Linked DNA regions of Homo sapiens. The protein of the gene in region 1 purifies or fractionates together with the protein of each later gene. This does not show direct contact. Each region holds a gene or a part of one and is shown on either strand. Other genes may lie near its edges.

Region 1 (7,840 bases):
CTAGAAGACCCCCTTCTTCTGCCACCCCACCAGGTAGAAAGTCAATGCCAGGCAAGATTGCAGGGATAATCCTTAATCCCAGGCCTATGAAACTCATGTATACACCAAGGTATGAACCATCTGAGACCTTCCCTGACCTCAGGCTCTGCAGGCAACTGAATGCATGCTCACACCCAAGGTGTGTGTGTTTTTTGGTCCTGACCAATGATCGTCTTTCCAGCTGTATGTTTTGCTTTCATCATAGCTTGCAACATACCCGATAATTATCAAAATATGTAAATATACCAAACAATGCTGATACTGATCATCCCTCAGGAAACCTTCTTATGACAGTGCCTTCCCCGAACTGGGGAGGGGCTGGAAGTACCCAGGAGGAAGCATGTCCTCTGGCTCTGGTCTTGGCTGTGTACACCTGTGGTCTCACACAGCATTGCTCTCCAACAAGGACCATTGGTCGCTTCTTTCTTGCGTGAACCCTTGATTCATGAACTCTTTTTTTTTAAGAAAGTGATTGGAATTTATTTGTATTAAAATGTCTCATTTGGAATACAACCAGACTATTTTATCAAGACAAAAATAGTAAATTAAATAAAACGTATCCCTAAAACTCTCTCACCTCCTCTCCTCGTTTAATCTTTGCAGAATCTGTATGAGGTAGAGGTGATTCTCCCTATTTTATAGATTATATCCTGATGCTCAGAAACATTAAGTAACTTGTATAAGGTCACACAGCTGGTAGGTAGTGGAGCAGGGATTCAAGCCCAGGTCTGTCTAAGGAAGCCCACTCTTTCCAATGTTCCACATCGCTTCACTCGGTGGTGCATAGCTTCACTATGAAGTGTAAGAGCTTAAGCAAGTTGTAGTGCAAGAAATGCTAGAAAGAGGAAGTCAAAAGAAAAAAGTAGTAAACCTGTAATTCTACTAGAAGGCTTATTAGGAAGTAAAAACAAAAAGTCACTTTTTTTTTCTCTTGCTTCATCATAGATACTAGATTACATTGGATGGCTCAAAAATTTGTTCCTCTTCCTCTTAAAATTGTCTTCATAATTAAATAGATTTATTGTACAGATTTTTAAAATTAATTATCTCAATATCTTTTGGAAACAAACTGAGTATTAATAACACAAATAAAATATTTCTCGATCCCCATGTGAGAAATGTAAATAAGAGATCAGAGCCACAAACATAAATTTAGACTTCTCCCATACCTAAATACGTGATTCTTTGTAACAATTCATACCGGATTCTTTGTAACAATCCACATAGTAACTTTGATAGTAAAAATATTTAACTCTAAAGACAAACTAACAGAAAGTTCTGTTAATACTAAGTTAGAATTTAAGGTAACTTGATAAAGAAAAAAATTAATAAGAACAGAAGCAAATTTTCCTGGATGCATTTACTTCTTTCAAAAAAGATAGTTTCAATTATATTTTTAAATAAGGTGTAATTAATTACATTTAATGTAAAAATAATATTTGATGTCTGTATGGCAGTCACCAAATTCCTTCAGCTCCCTTTTCAATTTGCATAATTACCTGTCCAGTAAGGCTTAGTAATTTCTGTAATATGAATGAAAATATGAAAATAGAGATTGCACAGCTGGTCCATTTCAGAAGCCTAGACTGGATCACAGACTTCTGATTCCAAGTCTAATGCTTTCCTACAAACTTTTCAAATAAGGTCTGAGAGTTTCATAATTTTAGAAATCTATGAAGGCACCCATATGCAGTGTTTCCTGACTCTCAGATAAGGCCATACTTTATGTTTGAATGAAAATCTTTCAAAACAAGGCAAAATTGAAGTCATGGGGTATTGTGAAATACCACAGCCTCCTGGAACAGGTATACCTGTTGTGAATTTTTTAACATTATAGTAATTTATATGATCTCATTAACTTCCAAATAGTATGCTCTTAATTAAGGTTTAATAGTATTACTGGGATGAATTAATGGGAGTAATATGCAGGGTTGGGCTTCCTGGTGGTGTGTGTGTTGGTTCCTGCAACACAAGTTGACAAATGCACCACTGAAACTTGGCACAGGGAAGGAAGAATTTGGGAGGAGTCACCAGGCACACGGCCATTGTCTCTCACCCTGTTGGCCCTGGATGTTAGATTGGAGTTTGCTGTAGCATTTAAAACAAATTTTGTTTACAATTAGACAGTGGAAATATTTTGAAATTGACCACAAAAATTAATGAGAACTAAGAGAAAACAACAGTTTCAAGGGAATATCTCATCAAATACTGCTACATCTCCCCCAACAGAATTAAAAGCAATTTCTCCTAGTTGATGGCTTTCATAATGAATAAGTATCTTTTTATGGGATATTAAGTTATTTACTGAACCATACTTCAGTCAACCCTGCAACTACTTTGGCTGATTATTCTCTTTCACTAAATTGACCCATTATTGAACTAAACTCAATAAACATATTGTTGTACTAGATTGACCCAGCCCAAATTGCTACTTAATTTTTGCAGTTCCTGCTTTTTCATTTAAGGTGCAAATGAAGTCTTCTTTTCCTATTATTTATATACAATGTAGAGATTACATTCAATTGCTTAAATGAAAATATTTTAATGTATCTAGTTGTTTCCATCAAATTTAGTGTCAAAACAGTAGCTAGTAGAGAACATATATAATCTAATCTGTTCAATAAAATTGGCATCACAATCTGAATGTACATTTTGTTTTGGTTAATGCTACAAAGGTATTTGTTGGCTTCTGAGATTCAAAATTAAACCTTATAAATTTAATTCAAATCTTGAAATAAAATATTTTCAATTCAACAACTAAACAAGAAAACACCACTTAAATTTTACTCGCCCTCTACAAACACCCCACATCCAAATTTTCAATCTATTAATACCAGCATGAGGGAAGAGAAAACATGAAACCCTATTTCCCATAGACATGGCATGGAAATCATTGAAATACCTGGTTGTTCTCTGGTTATTCTCTGAGTTGCTGTCTGACGGGCAATGCTCCTCTGAGAGTTGTTACAGTTCAGACATGGTAATGACTGGTTTTATACAGCTTTGCCCCTCCCACATGGCATTTTTTTTTCTCCCTCTGTCTTTTGATCTGTGTCCTTTGAGTGATTCAACATTTTACTCAGGAAGACATCATTAGAATAGAAATACTTGTTTGTAAAGGCATGGTTTAAGAAATTTTGGGGGAGGATGAGGTCACTCTGAAACTTAAGAATTTGTCAATATCTACACATGCCTGTGAAAGTTAGCTAAAATCTGTCAGCCCCAGTTTCAAGATTTCCCCCACTATACTTGTGCTCAAGGATAGTATCAAATTCTACAATACTTCTTCTAGCTTTGGACAACCATGGCCTGTGGGCTTCTTCCAATATATAAATATAATGAGATTTACTCTCTCTTTTGAGCCTAGGGAGACCCAAGCGATGCTTAGGGCATGGGAGGGAAGAAAAAATCCATTTTCTGTCTTAGAAATTCTCTATTTTAATCTGTCTTACATTGTCTCAAGCTGTAATTTTCGAAATAACTCGGATTCTACCCTAATATCCTGACACAAGAAGAATTTTTCATCTTCTCTTGATTATAAAATAGATCTTATGGCCGGGTGTGGTGGCTCATGCATGTAATCCCAGCACTTTGGGAGGCCGAGGCGGGAGGATCACTTGAGGTCAGGAGTTTGAGACCAGCCTGGCCAGCATGGTGAAACCCTGTCACTACTAAAAATACAAAAATTAGCTGCACGTGGTGGCACACATCTCCAGTTCCAGCTACTTGAGAGGCTGAGGCAGAAGAATCACTTGAACCTGGGAGGTGGAGGTTGCATTGAGCTGAGACTGTGCCACTGCACTCCAGCCTGGGTGACAGAGTGAGACTCCATCTCAAAAACAAAAAATAAAATAAAAAGAAAACAGATCTTATCCTTTATTAGGAGCCATTGCCCTTTTACACGTGTTAAGTGCCCCTTTGTCCTTAGTGCTCTTCTCCCGTGAGTGCTGAGGAGTCTGGTGGTGAGCTAAGTCCCTTCTTTCTTTTCAGCCTCTGTCCAAGAAGACCCCTCTGGTAATGTCTATGTGACCAACCATCTGTTTAACTGTTTTTTGTTTTTGTTTTTGTTTTTTTGAGATCGAGTTTCACTCTTGTTGCCCAGGCTGGGGTGCAATGGCGTGATCTCTGCTCACTGCAACTCCCGCCTCTTGGGTTCAAGTGATCCTCCTGCCTCAGCCTCCTGAATAGCTGGGATTACAGGTGCCCACCACTACGACTGGCTAATTTTTGGTATTTTTAGTAGAGACGGGGTTTCACCATGTTGGCCAGGCTGGTCTCAAACTCCTGACCTCAGGCAATCCGCCCACCTCGGCCTCCCAAAGTGCTGGGATTACAGGTGTGAGCCACCGGGCCTGGCCTGTTTAACTGTTTTTTAACCACACATTGACAGCTCAACAAGTTGGGACAGATATCAATGTACCTAGAACTTCCACCACCCTTTCCTTCACTCACTTTTCAGGTGCTACTCTTTCTCACCGTATTATTTTCATTCCAGTTATTCTCAAGAGGAATGTCATGCTTCTTTCTCCCCACTGACTCACCTGTGAGGTTTGATTCACACCCCATAACTTCCATGGAGTCCATTCTGACTCTTACAACCCTCAGTGAACTTCTACGTAGAACTGCAACTTTCAGAGTTCAGGATGTGGTATAGGAATCTTATATATTCTGACAGTATCATCTGAGTTAGGATCTATCCACAAATATATACTTGGTTTCCCTTGAGCAGCAAGAACAGTGGTGAGCATCAAGCAAATTCTTACCAAATATTTTTAATGGGTGGAGTAACATGCTAAAACTCTCTAGAGAGGCCCTATACTGTGGTGAACAAGGATATGAATACTGAGAGACTCAGAAAAGTCTCAGACTCAGAATCTTCTTTTTGCCATTTACTAGTTGTATAATCTTGCACGTATTTCTCAACTACTCTAACTTCTAATTTTCTAATAATTCTATACAGCTGGTACTGTTGATTGCCTACCCCAATCAATGCCTTTCTGCTACCCTTCTTCCTAATTTTCTTCGGGTATTATTCAGAGAGCCCTTGATCTCAGGAAAGGAAAGCCTAGCTGCCAGTCTTGTAGGGGGTGTGTGTGTGTTGGGCAGGGTGGGGGTGGGTTGGAAATGGGTGGACATATAAACCCAATTCTGGACAAAGCGTTTTGGGAGAAATCCACTGGGGAATGTTTGGCAAAAGGTTTTCTTTCCTTAACAGAAGAAAGCATGAAGAAAGAACCTCCATATCTATACCATCCCTTCCTACCCAACTTTGAGCATGGTTGTGCGAGGATGTGATGCCAGAAGATGCCACAGTCACAGTCATATTTCAACCATATAGGAAGACTGAGAAATTTGCAGCGATCCCAAACAAGAGCTCTGACATTGGCCAGTGCTAGAAACCACCTACCTCTAGTTTTTGTTCTTGCTGTTGCTGAGATATTATAATAAACAAGTCTGTATTGTTTAAGCAGCATTCGACGCTATGGGTTCTCTGTCATTTGCAGCCAAAAGCATTCTAAATAATACAGGCTGCTGTGAATAATCAACGAGATGATGCCTGCCAAGTCCTTAGCAGATTCTCGTTGGTAGTGAGTGCCGCATAATATTAGCTGATATATAATAGGGTGACTCTTAGTGTCCGGTTTGGGAGCTGCCTTTCTGCCTAGATTAGAGCAATTTATGAGCTCTAGTATAAGAAGACTAGACTTTCACACCTCAAACAACTAGAGAGACTTGTAAAAGATAATATGTAACTTAAACCCAAATTGAGTGGTGCTAATAGTAAGTATCATAGAAAGAAGGGAAACGATTGATAATGTGTGTTAGGGTCTTGAGCAAAGAGCTGAGATAAATGAAAAATAGACAATAGAGAGAGGAAGGCACTAATATTATAGAAGTGGGAAGCAAAGATCATCGAATAGCTTCCTGAGGTCTGTCTGGATCCGAGTTGGTGTTATAGAGGAGGAAAGGAGAAAAGGAACAGATCTTATAGAGGAGGAAAGGAGAAAAGGAACAGATCTTATAGAGGAGCCTTTGATCTCAGGCTGAGTTGGGATCTAAGCTAAAGGCAGTCTACTGTAAACTCTGGAGAAGGGAAGTGACTTGTAAAAAGTGGTGTTTTATGAAGAAAAATCTGAAAATTCAGAAGAGAAAGAATCTAAAGGGTGAGAAATGTATTAGGAGACTATAGCAGTCACCCAGCCAGTAGGTCAACTAGAAAAAAAGCACAGTCACTAAAGAGTGTTCCTTACCAATAGAAAATACATCAGATTAAGCTTTCTCAAATAACCTGAAATAATACAGGCAACAATTGCAGAGCAGGTCACTCCTACGGAATATGAGATTAATGAAACAGAAAGTGTCTTATTTTCTAGGAAAATGTATACAAGATAATCATAAGGGGGAAATGAAAGGAAATAAAATTATATGGACAGTATGATATTAATTATATAAATACAATACATGCAGAAGAAATATTACTTAACATAATATTTCTTCAAAACATAAACAGGATTTATGTCTAAGTGGTAACTTTATAGATTTACCATTGTCTTTCTTTGTACCTTAAAAAAGTCCCACATTTTCCATAATAGGCATGCATTACTTTTAAAATCAGAAATAATTTACCAAAGTTTCTGTATTGAGGTGTTTTTTCTCTCCTGACTATCACTACAATGAATCATATATAAAGGAGAAATAATTTCCAAAAGAAGACAATAACTTTATAAGTAATAAAGTTCTAATATCTAATCTGAGACTTGCATACACTGTGCTTTTTCTTTGAAACATCTAACCAACTGTGATTGCATAACCTGTGTAGTTTACTCTTCAGTGCCTATCTTCCCTGCTGGATGGTAACAACCATGAACTCCAAGACTATAATGGTTTTCCCCAGTGGCTAGGACAGGCATTTGGCTCATATTAGGTGTTCACTTAGTGTTTGCTGAATGACTTACTCATGTTTGGCACATTGTAATGCATTTCTATCCTCTTCACTTTGAAGAGCAAACAGTGATACTTCCATAATTACCTATTTTACATGATTTGTGGATATATGGGGAATGTACAAATTAGGAAAATGCATCATTTCTGTATCAGCAGTAATATCACCACTGAAATTATCTCAAACATGATATGAATGTAGGTCAAAAGAAAGTCCTATTTTAATATAAAATTCTATATAATAACCTTATTTTTAATGACTTCCAGTTAGACATATTGAAACTATGTTAATTTATAGCAAAGATCATTAGTATTAATTAGCCTTAGTAGTTAGATAGCATGATTTATTCCAGAAATTTAAGTAGTTGTTGCTGTGAGCCGAACCAAATGGAGGTGAAGGCAGTCACCTCCATGGTGTGAATTTGGGACATCTTGGCTAAAACATTCTCCAATATACACTTTTTGAAATCTCTTTATCAGAGAATAAATTAGCAACAACACTTTGTTTGTTAACGGCTTTGGGAGAAATATTACATGTATCTAAATTCCTGTGAAGCGGGTTTTACAGAGAAAGGGGTGGTCCAGGAAGGAGTTTCGGGGTGTGTGACGAGGATAGGAGAATGAGAAGGCTTTGAATAAGCATAGGCTTAGGCCACCGGGAGGCAAGGTCCCGAGAGACAGGGCAAAGAAAACAAACCTCACCTATTTTAAGAAGTGGCCCTGGGCCAGCTATGAGTGTGAGAAAGTCTGCACATGAAGTCAGCTTTGTTAGGGAGTGTAACACCTCTGTCGAAGTACTTATCTTGTTACCAAGTGACAACCGCAACACAGATGCCAAGTTGATAGGCTATCTGAACAA
Region 2 (6,043 bases), on another chromosome or scaffold:
CTCATTTCACTCCTTTCATTGTTTGCTATATCCTAAAATATGTGAAGTGAGAGAAAAAATATCATTTCTTCTCATTAAATCTCCTGCATTAAATCTAAGAATCCTTTAAAATAATCACACCTGATAAGTGTTTTATGCATTTCCCTCCCTGGAGTGTTATCATCCATCAAGCCAGTATCATCATCCACCTGCTTATTCCTTGGGACTAATGAGAGCCAAGTTAAATAGCAAATGACTTCTCACCCCTTCCTAGTCCTCATGCCTGAGGAATAAGGGCGACATTAATGGGAGCGGGAGAGTGGTGGCTTTGGTTGAGATGCACGTTCACAGACTAGAAAAGTGCCTCACCTCCATGGTGTATATGTGCCACCTTTTCTTAATCCAGTCTATCATTGTTGGACATTTGGGTTGGTTCCAAGTCTTTGCTATTGTGAATAGTGCCGCAATAAACATAAGTGTGCATGTGTCTTTATAGCAGCATGATTTATAATCCTTTGGGTATATACCCAGTAATGGGATGGCTGGGTCAAATGGTATTTCTAGTTCTAGATCCCTGAGGAATCTCCACACTGACTTCCACAATGGTTGAACTAGTTCACAGTCCCACCAACAGTGTAAAAGTGTTCTTATTTCTCCACATCCTCTCCAGCACCTGTTGTTTCCTGACTTTTTAATGATTGCCATTCTAACTGGTGTGAGATGGTATCTCATAGTGGTTTTGATTTGCATTTCTCTGATGGCCAGTGATGGTGAGCATTTTTTCATGTGTTTCTTGGCTGCATAAATGTCTTCTTTTGAGAAGTGTCTGTTCAATACTATGCAGCCATAAAAAATGATGAGTTCATGTCCTTTGTAGGGACATGGATGAAATTGGAAATCATCATTCTCAGTAAACTATCTCAAGGACAAAAAACCAAACACCACATGTTCTCACTCACAGGTGGGAATTGAACAATGAGAACACATGGACACAGGAAGGGGAACATCACACTCTGGGGACTGTTGTGGGGTGGAGGGAGGAGGGAGGGATAGCATTAGGAGATATACCTAATGCTAAATGACGAGTTAATGGGTGCAGCACACCAGCATGGCACATGTATACATATGTAACTAACCTGCACATTGTGCACATGTACCCTAAAACTTAAAGTATAATAATAATGAAATAAAATTAAAAAAAAAAAAGAAAAGTGCCTCACCTCCCTGTGAGGCTTGATGAATATTGTGGCCAGTGAGTGGAAAATGATTCTTGTCGAATAGACAGAGTATTCCCACCCCAGGAATGGATTAATAGAAGACACAATTTGAGCACTTCTCAGAATTATCTAGTATGCCTGAGTAGAGACTCACATGGGTGGAATCTGTGTTGTCTCATCAGAGGGAATAAAAAGACAATGAGGTGGTAAATGTGAAAAAAGCAGCCTTTTAGAAAAACATTATTTTCAAATACCTTTATAAATCATCTAATTTATCTTCACATAATATAAAGAAAAAACTAATAAAAATTTTCGTATTTCACTTTACATAATATGTTCTCCCATATTTAGGGATCATACAATTGTATTGTCTTCAAAACACACACACACACACATACACACACACACACACACACACACACACCCCTTCCAAGAAAGCTGATCCTTCAGAAAATAAATCTTATTTTTAAGCACTTGGGTTTTCAGGCCAGAAAATTAATAAATCCTAAACCTGACCCATTTTTGTAACAGCTAAAAAGGAGAAGAAAAAGCTAGTTAAATTTTGTGTGGATCCATTTATCTCTTAAAATATGCCAAAGCAATTTGAGGTGGGGGTGGAAACAGGTATTTATCTCTCATGCGTGATTCTCTCTTTATATTTCTATCTGTTGGGAAAAGGGTAAAGAACTATTCTTGGTCATTATTGATGTATTGTGTTGCCACTTTGTATGGTGCCTGCTGTGCTTTATCCCGAGGCATAGCAGTAATCGTTACTATCTTGACTCTTTCCTTCATCACAAGAGAGTAAATATGAAGTCTGAATGTCGTTCCTCACCCCCAAATTGTTTAACTCTGCTTCCAAACTAGTTTAAGAAATGCAAAATGGGAAGAGCTAGCTTTTCTTAGATACATTTCTTCCTTTTTTATTCTTTCTTGGGAGACGTTAAGTATAAAAGGGAAAAAGTCAGTTCCTTCTTCTCTCTCTTTCTCTTTGGGTGACAGCAATGCTCACTTAGTAATTATAAACTGGAAATAGGAGAGTAGCTTGAGCAGGTTATGATATATCTGCCCAATGTGTTTCATTCCTTCAAACATAAACTTTGAGAGTAAAAGAGATTTTTATAATTTAAATGCCAACGACAGGAATGGCCTCATGTTTTAACTTTCAAATAATAAATGGGGAGTTGGTATTTGGGCAGAGTTTGCATTTTACTAATCCTATATACTTTGAGCTTAGTTTTTAGAATTGTGTCAAATACATCAACATATCAGGATTATAGTGCCAAAAATAGTTAAAGTGCCTTGGTCCTCCCTCTGTAGGCAGCAAATTGAAACTAACATGGGACCATGCCATCCTTCTAGCATAATGGAGAAGTCTGAACTGAGGAGTATCTTTGATGAAAGACATTTAGGACCCTAGAAACTAAATCTTGTCACCAAGACTTTATAGTAAAGTAGTAGCAAAATTATTTTTAAAAGACTTTCTTCCTTTTACTACCCATTTCCTCTCTTGGGAAAGCTGATGAGCAAATTATCCAAGACTCATTTCTTTATTAGGCAAAGTCAGAATATTTCCCCTCTGAAAATCTGAATTATGCCCTCATTCTTTTTCAAGAAATATCTCAAAGAGCAAATAGAATTAAACATGACACTTGATTGTCTGATTATTTGGCATGTATAAAATTATCATGTGGCTTAATGTGCCTTAAGTGAAAATTTAAACTTAGACCTGAAACCTTTACAGTTGGATGTAGCGTTGAGCTTTTGCATGTTTTCTGTATAATAAACCACTTTTGTTTTGTTTGTTTTGTCTTTTAACCTACACCTTTATCATTACTCTAACAGATTTAGGGCTTCTCTTTCTCTACAGCTAAGTAAGGGAATATGTGCAATTATGAGACATACAAAAAAGGAAAGGGAAAGGACTTTCTAAGTAGCAAATCTGTGCCATGAAGTAGATGTGGCGTGAAGATACAGAGCCTGAGGATAGTAATTTTCCCTGAGCCACGCACACAGGCTTTTATTTCATGCCTTTTCTCTTTCTGTGCCGTCACCTTTGAGAAAAACGATTGCACCTTCTCCAAGTCTGCCTTTTTAACAGCTACAGTTAAGTTGGCAAGACTTCCCCAGCTCTGAATATAGCCATTTGCCGACTCCGGCCTCTTTGCGAGACTGACTCAAATCTGTGATCTTCTGTTCAGCATACACATCAGCAAAGTGAGAAGATGAGCACTAAATATAGGCTCTATTAACTTTACTTTTAGATTTACTGCCTTCAAAAAGTGCCTATTCTGAGCAACATAAACGTTATTCCTTACATATGTATGTACACACGGTACCCAGAGTCGTACTGTGCAGCCTTCAAAAACATACCATCAGAAAGAGTAGGTGCTGAGATAAGGAAACTTTGCCAAATGAAAGAAAGTCACTCACTTCCAATATCCCCTCTCAAGCGGCTACCGTGAAACGGGCTGCAAACACATTCCCTGAGCATCCCTTGCTGATACAGCTTCTTTATATTTATATCCTACTGGATGGTAGCATATTGCTAAGGTTTCCTGTACTCTGCTTCAAGGGAATGTAAGCTTTATGGCATTGAAACATTTAGGGAAAAAAAAGATGTTTAAGAGAATTAATAGAGCCGTAGTCTGTATTAGGATGTGTGTCATATGTGTGTTCTATAAACTAAGCATCGGTGGGTTTAGAGTGTTAAAGTGTCAGCACATTCCTTCTCCTTTTGTCTCTCAGGCTAACATGAGAGAAAATAGAAAAGTCTTGGCTGTGGGGATTGGAAGCTCAGGGGGCCAAATGTCCTTGCCAGATCCTTAGAGCATTACTTTGACTCCTAAAAATAGTAGTGTATGTTATTTGATGGCTTTTGTTTCCATAGTTCCATCACTGACAAAACTGTCAATACTGTTGATGGAGCAGCAGCATAGCCTAGAGTGATGCATTCTTACCCAGAGGTGGCAATAGGAGAGGGTCCATGTAAATAGGACGAGGTAGACAGTGCATGATTGTAGGAGAAGGGTTGAAGGGAGGACATGATTCCAAAAAAGATCGTTCTCAATGTGTCGTCTGACTCAACCAGCTGGCAGATTACACTTGCCAAGTCGTTCCCTTTCCTTCTAAGTCAGTTGGCTCCATATTCACTTGAATATGCCTCTGTTTGGGCAAAGCAAGATACCTCCACTTAACCTTTATCCAAGGAAGCTCTTGGTGTCCTCTTGGTCATAAAGTTGTCTCCTACCTAACCCAGTTTTACCAAATGGAAGTAAAAGGGGACAAACTATGGAAGATGGACTCCATGCCATTGCAGTCAGCCACCATTCTCTTTTCCATATAAGGAGCCCCATTACATAAGCTACGGGTGAGGTTGGAACAGCTATGTTTCATAATTTCAAGAGTGTGACCACCCTGCTCTAGTCATCATCATTGGATGAATCCAGTTGACTCTTTGGCAAAAGGGTGATACTTTTCACTAAAAATGCCTACTCTTCCTGTTGATGTTCCTTTTCTGTTTTTACCTTGTCCAATTTCCACACTAGTCATTTTTTTTATTTTTTAGAGGATCAGATTTTAGCGCTGGAAAATGAGTTCAAAAATTTCAGTGTAATGTCATAAGGATGTTGGGATACAGAGATTTTTTTTTTCCTTGGAAACAAATGGACTGGGAAGAAACACAGCATGGCTTTGCTCTGAGTTTCAATCTGATGATTATGACCATGGAAGATAGTCTTATGTAAAGGTTAAATGGTGTTTACAAGTGGATAGATAAGGCGGAGATGGTGAGAAGCCGGGTTTTCTCTATGCTAAATGTGTCTACTAAGAGCAGCACTTCCTACTAGCTAAGCACAATCATAGCCCCACCGTGATGAGCTGCTAGTCTGAATAACATTCCCTGACTTAGGGAAAGGCACACAAAAACATATAAAGAATATGTCTATTTTCATATGTGTGATACTGACAGAGCCATGGTATTCCTAAAATATAGGTTTCTCTTTTTTCTTGTATTCTTAGCAAATTGCATTTATTCACTACATTACAAACCATCACTGATGTATCCAAAATAGCACACATAGTTCAGTATGAAAATAAGAGAATAAAATCTGTTATAAGCAAGTGATTTAGGTATTTTCTTTTGTGTTTATGCATTATCTGACTATATTAAAACCTGTTTTTCTATTTACCTTCTATCAGTTTTCTCTACCAATTATGTTTTTTCAATGCTCTATAAGAATGAATATGGAAATTATATTTCTTTTTTCTGTAAAAGAGTTGCAACTACTTTATTATATTTAGAAATCCAATAAACTTCTTATTACATTTACTTGCCTATGTGTGGAATTCTTTTTGAGTTGGATAATCTCTGTTTCCTTTTCTTCTAACCCCCTTTACTGTGTGACTCATTTTTTACATCATTTGCTTTCCATATGGTCTTCTGAGAAACGGAATATCTCTCATAGCAAATATGGTGCCACAAGAGTATGAAAGCACCCACTCTCTTCCACTGTTAGCACAGAAGAACTTAAGGTCAGAGGTGTTCTAAAATTATTTGACCACTCTGTGTCTTGACCTTGCAAAGACATTTTCATTTTTAAAGCTGGATCCAAGTAAATGGGTCCCTTAGGGTGGGGTTGGGGTTCTCCATTTTCATCACAAACAAGTGGCTGACTTGTTCATACTTTTATTCCATCTGTATTACGCATGCTTTTCAAACATTGAGAATTTCCTCTGTACTAGGCATCTTGAGCAATACAGCTATCAATGACATATAGTTCCTTTCAATGAGTTTATAGTCTAGTTAAGCTGATAGATATGGATACAAATACCTATGGGGAAAGGAA

What was found.
Region 2: the proteins of SERPINB2 (region 1) and LPP purify together in Homo sapiens (affinity purification with mass spectrometry; 2 studies listed by BioGRID and IntAct, with this or other methods). This does not show direct contact.

Annotation. Positions count from the first base shown.
Region 1 is NC_000018.10:63,882,872-63,890,711, reverse strand, and holds the start of SERPINB2 (plasminogen activator inhibitor 2), read right to left. Parts: upstream 3,008-7,840; 5' UTR 2,942-3,007; exon of another isoform or gene 1-2,941. UniProt on the Homo sapiens protein: Inhibits urokinase-type plasminogen activator. The monocyte derived PAI-2 is distinct from the endothelial cell-derived PAI-1.
Region 2 is NC_000003.12:188,885,146-188,891,188, forward strand, and holds the end of LPP (lipoma-preferred partner), read left to right. Parts: 3' UTR 1-5,526; downstream 5,527-6,043. UniProt on the Homo sapiens protein: May play a structural role at sites of cell adhesion in maintaining cell shape and motility. In addition to these structural functions, it may also be implicated in signaling events and activation of gene transcription.